2 separate regions of the Homo sapiens genome follow, and region 2 is linked to region 1. The links come from fine-mapping of genetic effects on gene expression. A gene starts in region 1. The other region holds a variant in brackets. All regions are shown on one strand. Distances are between the middles of the regions.

Evidence for each region.
Region 2: its variant is fine-mapped to the expression of NPPC in esophagus muscle (GTEx, PIP above 0.99).

The regions. Positions count from the first base shown.
Region 1 is chr2:231,923,670-231,929,037 of GRCh38, forward strand. NPPC (natriuretic peptide C) reads right to left here and starts at 2,727. Exons shown (of 3, transcript NM_024409.4): 1 at 2,491-2,727; 2 at 1,736-2,046. The coding sequence starts at 2,580. The coding sequence ends at 1,756. RefSeq lists silencers at 1,621-1,710, 1,791-1,840, 2,796-3,015 and an enhancer at 3,417-4,071.
Region 2 is chr2:231,893,364-231,898,731 of GRCh38, forward strand. No RefSeq gene overlaps it. Among named protein-coding and RNA genes, the nearest start is that of MIR1471, 3.8 kb to the left of the region's middle. The variant C/T (reference allele first, on the strand shown) is at 2,268.

The sequences.
Region 1 (5,368 bases):
GGTAGGAGATTATTGAACCCCCCTGATCAAAGGGGTCGAGAATTCTTAACAATGTGGATTCCTCCTACACAGCATCTTTCACCACCCGTTTGGCCATCACTTGGTGACCACAGACATCCAGGCCCAAGAACAAAGCCCCTGTGGGGATGCGCATTCCAGGTACGAACCAATGGAGAGTCACTAACATTTGCTCAGGTTCTAAAGTTTGAACTTGATGCTTAAATCAAACTGAAAATTTGAGGCCTCAGACTCCGTCTCTTTGTTGTTTAGACAGGAGAGAAGAGAGCAAAGGCATTCCAAGGGTAGCTACTGAAGGCTGGTCCCCAAGTGTCAGAATCATTCTTCTCCCTGTGCAGGGGAGAGTCAAGATCACAGACAACTACAGCCTTTGCAGAACTGGGGAGAGGCCCACAGCCGAGTGAGGTCTGGCTGCAAAGAGAGGAAGGGCACTGGTTAAAACCTCGGGCAGGTGGGAGTGGCCATGGGCCAGGGTGTGCTGGTTTCTCTGGTCATTGACAAATATTTCCACGAGTCTGTTCGGGGTGCAGTGGGTCCTAGAGTGCCTTAGGCCAGCACTTCGCCCTTAAGCTGTTCAATATGGAGAGGTGAATGGGTTCACAAACTGTGAAAAAGTGTTCTGTACTGTAAAAAAGAGACAGTGTGCTGGACAGGCGCTCTTGTTTCCCTCCGGGAGAAGATCCGACACTGACAAGGGTTTCTGGGGAGGAGACAGCAGCTTGCCCGTAGCCTGGGATGGGACAGTCAAGGTGTGGGACAGGCAGTGGCAGCTGCTGAGCTGGAGGCAAGAAAGCGAGAAAGCCAGGTAAGCCTGATCCTAACGCACATGACTGTCAATGTCAGAGGCTGGGATGTTATTCAGTGGGCACGGGCAGGCGGCAGGAATAGAGAGGAGGGAAAGAGGAGAGGTGAGGCTCTCTGCAGCAGTAAATTACCACCACGCGGCACCCGGCAGGGGGTGGCGGTAGGGCAGAGGTTTCCAGCCCTAGTGCGGGGTGAGACCCCACACCAGAAACGGAGCCCAGAGCACCGGTTGGGTCGGGACAGGGTTGGTGAGGGACTCTGGGACGTGTTGAGTTCGAGGCTGGGGCAAATAATATTTACTTTAGTGTCTTTCCTATTCCCTGAAATAGTGCCACAAGCACTGAGATTCACCCCCGAAGCCACCAGGCTGCAGCTGCCTCAGGACCCTGGACAGACCAGTTTGCCCACTGCCTGGGTTTAGAGAAGGGACAGGAATCGGAGTGTCCCAGGCAGAAGGGCGCTCTGACAGTGCCAGCAGAGGGCTACTCTCACTACAGGGGGCATGGTGGCCAGCAGATGATCGATGTCCCCTGGACTTGTGGGTGTAACCTTCCTTCTCTGCTCCCACAAACCCATGATCTCCTCTCAATCCCCCCACCAGCTGGCCAATAGGGGCCAGTGCTGCTAGTTCAGCTACGGTTCAGGGGTGGGTGAGACACCACCAAGCCTGTTTCTGCTTCTCCAGAAGAAGCCAGGTGGGTTCAACCAGGCTGAGCCGTTTCTGACCTTGCCAAAGTTCCCCGATCACGTTATCCTTCGCTTTCTTTGTCTGTAAAGTGGGATAATAAAGGGGGCGGCTGGCAAACGCCTAGCACAACTTGAGCAAAGGCGGCTCGCGCGCCTCCGAAGGCCGGCTGGGCGGCGGGCGGTCCCGGGCCGGGCTGGGGCTGGGCGTCGGGTGGGCCGTACTCACCGCCGCCAGGGGGCGCCGCACTAACATCCCAGGCCGCTCATGGAGCCGATTCGGTCCAGCTTGAGGCCGAAGCAGCCCTTGGACAAGCCCTTCTTGTTGGCTCCTTTGTATTTGCGCGCGTTGGGGTGCTCTTGCAGAAGGCGAGCCCACGCTGCCCGCGACTTGGTGTCCACGCGCAGGTCCCGGAGCAGTCGCGACCGGTCGCCCTTGAGATTGGCGCCCCCGCCCCCGGGAGCCTTGTCGCCCTTCTTCTGACCGCCGCCCGCAGCCTGCGGCTCGGCCAGCTCCTCTGCCGGCGGGGTTCGCGGGACCTGTCCGAGGAAAGAGCGGGCAGGTGAAGGGACACGCGGCTGCAGCACGGGGGACTCTGATGCTCCAGCCCCACGCGCCCGCCGGCGCGGGGTGTCCCTCCCAAGCCCAGAGCCGCCCCCACCGATGCCGGCCAGCTTGGCCCCGCATCCACCTGCCACGCGGCCGCCTTCGCCGCTCCCTCCGGAAGCCCCCTGCCCTCCCTTTGCTGCTCGCCGGGCAGGCCACACTGGGGTAGGGGGCTGCGCATGGGCCGATGTTCTCCGGAGGCTGGAGAAGTGGACCCCCGAATCCGCGCTTCGAGGGCTCCCCGGCTCTCGCCCACGCGCATCTCGGAGGAGACAGCCGCCTGCCTTCCCTCTCTCCTGGGTCCTGCGCGCCGCATTCTCCAAGCCCCCAGCCTCCCACGCCTCTCCCAGGCTCGGCGTCCCCACGACAGCACCCACCTTCGGCGGCGCCCCGGGCTTGGCTTCGGAGGGCCGGAGGGAGAGCAGCGTGAGCAGCAGGGCGCAGGCCAGCAGCTGGGAGAGATGCATGGTGCCGCTGGGGTCGAGGGGCGCACACGGGCGGCAGCGAGGGCGCGCAGGTCGGCGGGCAGACCAGCAGGGGGATGCGGAGCAGGCTGGCTGGGCTGCAGGGCGAGCAGGGTCCCAGTGCTGCGCGGCGCCGGCTGGGTGCGCTCTGAGCCCGTGACTCTGCTCGCGCCTTTATAATCCAACCTGCCGCTGATGTCATCCTCCCGCCCACCGGGCCGCCCGGGCCAATGACACCACGCACGCGGCCGCGCCGAGGGCCGGGAGGGGGCCGCGGGGGCTCCCCTCCCTTATCCCACCCCGGAGGGATCCCGCGGCTCGGCGGGCTCGCTCCAGGCTGCACTTGGAGCTGCAGAGCTGAGCGCACAGGGGAACTCCATTTGCAGCGAGCGCGCGCCCTGGCCTGCCGAGCATCGGTGCGCCTGGTGCCCTGTGCACCCACTAGGTCCTCATCGCACTCACTCTACCTGGAAGGGATACGTAGCCCTCTTTGCAGGTGCAAAGACAGGCTCAGAGGAATGAAGTCACTTGCCCAAAGTCATACAGGCATAAAGTTGGCGCTGCCCGAAATCCACGCAGCCCTGCTTGTCGCCAAACTCTTCCCTGGGCACCTGACAGCCGCGGGATGGCATTGCAGCTCCGCCTTTCACCTGCCGGTCAGGGCGGGAGCGCAGACCACAGCGACGTCGTTAGGTTGGGGAGGCAGAGGATGGGGTTGGAGGACTGGGGTGGGAGGCGCAGGGAGAGCGGGGTTCGCCTGGGCCGCAGGGGGGAGCGCAAGTCTTCCACACTGGAGAGTGCAGGGGTGTCGCCAGCCTGAGTGTTTGAGCGCAAGGCGGGAACGAGGGGACTGCGAGCGCGGAACCAAGATATTCATGCTCATGCGTGTGCTCCGCGGCATCGTATGCTCGCCAGTTACTGCTCTAGGTTCACGTTCAGCCGGTTTCGGCCACACAGAACGTCCCGGGGTCTGACTCCGCTGGTGAACTCCCTCTGTGGGAACAATGCGCACCTGACCTTGCCTGCACCCACGCGAGGATCCGCTGCTGGGGGAAGCCCGCTCCAGTATCCTGTGCACTTTCACAGGCTGGGGAGAGAGCTTCCTAGCCAGCGGCCCAGTCCAGCCTCTGCCAGCCGTGACAGGTGGTCAACTTCCCGTTTTTGACTGTAGAGAGGTCCCCGTGGCTCTCGGGACATGGCCACATATCCCTACCACTCACGAACTTGCTCTCCTTGCACTGGGCTTCTCGGTCCCTTGGACACTAAGGAGTGTGGTGGGCATTTGGGCACTGCGGTGTGGGCCGCAGAGGCGGAGAGCCCAGATCCCCCGAATTGATTGAAGAGCAGGAATCTATGACTGGCTGCTGCTGAGCAGGACGCAGGCTGGAGAGAGAACAAATGTTGCCGCAGGAGTGCAGTGGCTGTCCCCAGGCGTGAAGGCGATTCTGGGGAGACAGTAGCCCAGACGAGATTTTCCAGGGAGAGGAAGCTGTGCCTGAGGCAGGAAGGCAACTGGAGTGAAGAGGGGCTTGGAGAACCAGGTTCCCTCCAAGCCTCCCTCTTCCCTCCGTGGTAGTGAGCCTGGTCCCAGAGCTGCTAAGGCGGCCGCATCATGGTCTGCTCTGTCGGCACCTTTCTCAGGCTACCCCTTCCCACTCTCATACCCTGACTCACAACATTGGAGCAACCACTACACAGGTCACTTTGCTTAGGAAACAGCTAACACCTGAGGTCTGAGTTTGGGGCAGCAAAGTTTCCTGATCTCCAGGAAGATCCAGACATCAACAGGGCACCTTCTGTGGATTCTGGTGAATTGAGTCACCACCTCCACGCAGCCCCCCAATTCCTCTCCGTGCTAACACCCATAGAGTGGCACCACTCTTTCATTTGAGGAGAAAGGAAGAGGAACTAGAAAGCAGTATAGGGAGGGGTATCCAGGTGGGCTGTGAAAGTTCCCTCTGCTTTTTGCCTGCTGTGCAAAGAAGGATGTTACCATCTGGAACTTCTCTGACACTTGCTTTCTTTATACCTGTTTAAAGAGTCAGGCAGAGCCACACAGACTGACTCTAGAGTCAAGCACTGGGCTGGTTTCCAGGGGCCAGCAGTACATCCTCTAAAGCCCCTTATTAAGGAAATCTTCCGCTGTTCATGGCTACTTCCTTCTGTCTGAACGTCCTTAGGTTGGTCCTTCCTGTCTTCTGTGTTCCTAGACACATTCGCGTCCAGGTGATTGACTATCTAGGTCTCCTCTCTGTTTGAACTTTGAGGCTAAATTAATAAAACTGACACCCCCAACCTACTGTGGCAGAGCCGATTCCCTGGACTCACCTTCCCATCTTTGGAAGGGAAATCTGGTGAGCTGCCACTCCTGACCACTGGGCGGTGGTCATCTGCAGAGGGAGGCTTCCCGGGGGGCAGGCTGTGGAGCAGCTTCTGCTTAGCTGGGGCCTGGGAGGCAGGGTGGGTAAGAGTCAGAGGCCTGGGCAGGAGGGGCCACCGGGAGGTGTGCCATCAGCACATAACTGCCTTGGAGATGAAGGTTTCCCCTCTCCCTTTGCTTTCCTTGCCTGGGGAGCTGCAGAGGACGCCCACTCTTCCTCCTGAGCCTAGATTTGGAACTCAGGTCCCTTTTTGTTGCTTTTCCCTTACGAAGTCTGCTTCTTCTGCCCCAGGCCCCAGGGGCATGGCCTGGGAAAGTTGAACTCACTGAGCAGCTGAATATGAGCTATTCAAGTCATTTTATTGACTGCTCAATTTTAAATTTCCTCCTAACGGCAAAAGAGGGAGAAAA
Region 2 (5,368 bases), 30 kb before region 1:
CATCATGGCTGAAAGGAATTTTATGAACTGTTGCCTTTCGATCTATTTCCAATCTTATGTGCATGCCCTTTGCTGCAAGACGCTAAAGTGTCTCCCACTAGAGTAGGCAGAGTGTATTTCTCTGCTCCATGGATGTTGGGCTTGGCTATACGACATGCTTTGGCCATTGGAGTGTGGGCAGAGTGACAGTATGTCAGTTCCAAAGAGTGTCAGTGCTGCCACCCACCCCTCTTGCACTTTCTGCTTTCCTCCATGGGAAGAACATACCCCAGGTAGCCACTGGCCTCAGAATGAGAGACACATGAAGAGAACTAAATGCAACCCAGGGCCTGAAGGAGAGCTGCTCTGGCCAGCAGGCACATTTGTGAGTGCGATATAGATGATTGCTGCTCTAAGCCACGGGGATTGTGGAGTTTGTTATCCAGTAGGACTCAGCAGAAACCTGGCTGATACAATGTTTTTAGGCTCAACAGGGTGATCACAGCATGAACAGCAGAGTACATGGCTCCAGACATCCTACAAGCTGCTGTCCGAATAAACTTCTAACATCACGCCTTTCCCCCACTGCCTGTATACTTAAGTCCACTCTCCTTTGCTCTACGGTGAAGGCTCTTCTCACTTGAACTGCAACCAAATTTTCCTCACCTGTCCCCTCCTCCCTTAACAAATTTTCCATCCCAGGAGCAGTGGCTCATGTCTGTAATCCCAACGCTTTGGAAGGCTGAGGTGGGAGGACTCGAGCCCAGGAGTTCGAGACCAATGTGGGCAACATAATGAGACCTTATCTCTACAAATAATAATTAAAAAATTAGCCAGGTGTGGTGGCACATGCCCATAGTCCCAGCTACTCGGGAGGATGAGGCGGGAGGATCACTTGAGCCTGGGAGGTCGAAGCTGCAGTGAGCCGTGATGGCACTACTGCACTCCAGCCTGGATGACAGAGTGAGATCCTGGCTCAAAAAAAAAAAAAAAAAAAAAAAAAAAACAGAAATAAAAAACCTAAAACAAAAACAAATACAAAAATCTTCCATTGCAGCCATTCTTAAACCATATGTAAAGTTCTGCTGCTGACTGTTTTTCTCCACCTAACTCCTAAACTTCATGAAGACAACCAGCCGTCCCATTCATCTCCCGCTTCTCTGAACACAGGTTGTCAGAGAGGAATGGGGCCCACCCATGATTCACTCTCACACCCTCTCTGTCACTCTGGTGCCTTCGCCCTACTCCGCTCCATCCCTCTGGGTTAGAAGTAGGATGTGGTACCTAGCTGCTTCTTACCCAGATCTCTCTGACATGCAGTCCTGGTGCCCTTTGTCACCCCATGTCAGCTCTGGGCACCCTCCCTGGTCCATCCTTGTGTTAACAGGACCCAGGTGACTCCTGGCACAAAGGGGGATGTTGGAAGCTGAGGGAATGTTTCCTTGCAGGGGCAACAGAGGCAGAGAAGAGTCCAGGCAGCCTTGAGGCGTTAACGGAGACTGACCTGGAGGCCAGGCCATGTTTGTTAATGAACCTGAGAAGCTGCTGAAGGAGGCCTGGGAAAGCCCCGACTTGACACCTGTGGCTGCTTCGAGCTCCTGAAGGCCATTCTCCCCTGGCAGGTGGATGTCAAGAAACGAATACATTCAAAGAAGAAGGGGAAAGATATGGTTTGAATCTGTGTCCCTCCCAGATCTCCTGTGGAATTATAATCCTCAGTGTTGGAGGTGGGGCCTGGTGGGAGGTGGTTGGATCATGGGGGTGGATTTCCCTCTTGGTGCTGTTCTCGTGAGAGTGAGTGCATTCTCGCGAGATCTGCTCATTTAAAAGTGGGTGGCACCTCCCTGCTGTCTCTCTCGCTTCTGCTCCGGCCGTGTGAGGTGTTCGCTCTCCCTTCACCTTCTGCCATGATTGTAGGTTTCCTGAGGCCTCCTGGAAGCCGAGCAGATGCCAACCTCATGCTTCCTGTATAGCCTGCAGAACCATGAGCCAATGAAACCTCTTTTCAAGTTATCTGGTCTCAGGTATTTCTTTATAGCAGTGTGAGAACAGACTCATACAGGGAGTGAGGACTTCTCTGATCAAAGGAAAGCAGCCACCTGGTTTTTGTCCAGTGGTTCACTGAAAATATTTTACTGAATAAAACTTTTCCTAACTGGCAAGAATGGTCTAGAAGCAGGTTGCTCAAATAGTGGAAGAAGTCCTCTTGAGGTCAAGGTAGTCACTGATGCCTTGACTTAGAACAGCAAAGCCACTACCGGAAAACCTGAACGCGCAAGATCGCAGTT[C/T]ACAATTCAGAGCAGAGGGCCTGTAGCCCTTCGAGGCCCGAAGCCAGAGAATGCCGGAGGAGAGTTTTATTGCAGGAACTTAAATTTAACCAGCTGGAACTCTTTAAACAATCATCCTATTCATATATTTAAAATAAATTGTGCATCTTTTAGCAGGCAGTCAGCGTTTCGTTATTAAGATGGAAGATGGGACAGAGTGTTCTTGGCTGCGTTGATCCCAGAATCCCAGGCTCCTTTTCAGGCGCGCTTAGCATGTGGTAAAGACATTTGCGAAGGTAAGTGTGTTTCAGGCCTGTCAGACTGGAGCCCGCATACCTACACAGCAAGCAGCCGCTGGTCAACTGAGCAGCTCAAAGGGAGACCTTTCCAAGGTGATGTCATTTTCTCCTGACGTTCTACCAGAAGCCTGTAGGGAGCAAGAAAGTTGGAAAGAAAAAGGACGTTTTAGAAGGTTTAGTGGATTTACCAAAATCTTCTGGTAACAAATAATAAAATATTTCATAGAGCTACAATAGTTGAAACAGTGCGAAGTGGTTAAAAAAGGAGCAGTTCCAATAGATTGTTTTTTTTTTTTAAATAGACTTTAAGATACATAGGAAGTCAACATAAAAGGGAAAAGGAAGCTTATTCCTTGAAAACAACCAATACTATTATATGAAACCTGACAAGTTTTACCATGAAAAAGTATACACAATTAGAAATGAATATGCAGAAATAACCCCTGGTACCAAAACCTGACAAGTTGGCACAAAAAATTACACAGATCAATCTCTTTTCTTTTTTTTGAGACAGAGTCTCATTCTTGTTGCCCAGGCTGGAGAGCAGTGGTGCGATCCCAGCTCACTGCAACCTCTACCTCCTGGGTTCAAGCAAGTCTCCTGCCTCAGCCTCCCAGGTAGCTGGGATTACAGGCACCTGCCACCAGGCACAGCTAATTTTTTGTATTTAGTAGAGACAGGGTTTCACCATGTTGGCCAGGCTGGTCTCAAACTCCTGACCTCAGGTGATCCACCTATGTCGGCTTCCCAAAGTGCTGGGATTACAGACATGAGCCACCGTGTCCAGCCTCTTCTCTTTTCTTCTTCTTTTTTTATTTTTTGGAGCCAGGGTCTTGCTCTGTCACCCAGGCTGGAGTGCAGTGGTGTAATCACCTCTCACTGCAGCCTCAACCTTATGGGTTAAATTGATCCTCCCACCTCAGCCTCCTGAATAGCTGGGACTGCAGGTGCACAACCATGCTTAGCTAAATTTTTTATTTTTTGTTGAGACAGGATCTCATTTTGTTGCCCAGGCAGGTCTCAAACTCCTGTGCCCAAGCGGTCTGCCCACATTGGCATCCCAAAGTGCTGGGATTACAGGCCTCCCAGCCAGATCAATCTTTCTTACTTTTGAATATTGACATAAAAATCCTAAATAAAATATTAGCAAATTCTATTCATCAATATTTAAGCCATAGTTTTATCACAGGAGTGTAAGAGTCGTTAAAAATTTGGAAAATGTGGTCCTGTAATTTACTGCATTAATACGATAAAGGTTATAAAAAACATATATCATTATCTTCACTGCTTCTCAAACTTTGATGTATATAAGCGTTACCTGAGGATCCTTTAATGCATATAAGAATAAAAAAATGCATATTCATGGCAGGACTCAGTGACTCACACCTGTAATCCCAGCATTTGGGAGGTCGAGGCCGGTGGATCACTTGGGGTCAGGAGTTTGAGACCAGCCTCGCCAACATGGCAAAACCCTGTCTCTATTAAAAATACAAAATTAGCTGGGCGTGGTGGCTCATGCCTGTAATCCCAGCACTTTGGGAGGCCAAGGCAGGTGGATAGCCTAAGGTCAGGATGTTGTAACTGAGCGAGTTGTAGAGAAACGCCACACTCTGAGACTAATTCAGGAGTCCTTTATTGCCGGCGACTGAGAGACGGCTAGCGCTCAAAATTCTCTCGGCCCCGAAGAAGGGGCTAGATTTCTTTTTATACCGTGGTCTAACTAGAGGAGGGGGAGTTTAGCTGAAGCAATTTTTACAGAAGCAGAACAGGCAAAAAGTTAAAAAAATTAATTGGTTACAGAAGTAGTTACAGAAAAAATAAACAGTTCCAGGTGCAGGGGGCTTAAACTATCACAAAGATATAAAGGCAGGGGCTCTAGATGCCATCCACCGAGCGTCCCCAGGAGCTGCTGGTTCAGCTTGCCTCAATATCTTCTCAGTAAGTGCATTCCTGGATGTGCATGGAGTCAGCTTGCACCAGTTATGCCCTTAAGGGAGGGAGGTAAAGGGGCTGTAAGTGAAGGAACTAAAATGGAGTCTGTCTGGCTCTCTCAGCTAAGAGAGACAATCAGGTTAAAACAAGGTAGGGTATCACAAGGAGTTCAAGACCAGTCTGGCCAACAGAATGAAACCCCGTCTCTACTAAAAATACAAAAAATTAGGTGGGCGTGGTGGCGGGCGCCTGTAATCCCAGCTACTAGGGAGGCTGAGACAGGAGAATTTCTTGAACCCAAGAGGCAGAGGTTGCAGTGAGCCAAGGTCACGCCGTTGCACTCCAGCCTGGCAACAAGAGCGTAACTCCGTCTCAAAAAAAACCAAAAAAACTCGATGTAATCTTAGACTGGCCATGTATGGTGGCTCATACCTGTAGTCCCAGCATTTTGGGAGGCCAAGGTGAGAGGACTGTTTGAGACCAGCCTGGGCAACACAGTGAGGCCCTGTCTCTACAAAAGAAGAAAAACAGAAAATTAGGCATGGCTAAATGATAAAATAATGTTCTAGTTGAATTTATACATATATACATATACATATAAATAAAGATCTAAAACTTCAATATGGCAAATAACATTATCTGGGCAAAATAATAGCAAAATACATGACAGACAAGGAGTAAATGTGCCAAATATATAAAAAGCTACTTTAAATAGAGAAAATGGTCAAAGAACAAGTCATTCACTGAGGAAGAAATCCAGATGGCCGTAAACACAAGCAATGGAGCTCAAAGAAACACACATGATAGCAAATATCTGGTTGAGTATTGTTTATCTGACTGACTTTTTAAAAAATTAAAATATCCATTTTTGGTATGTAGAATCAGACAGCC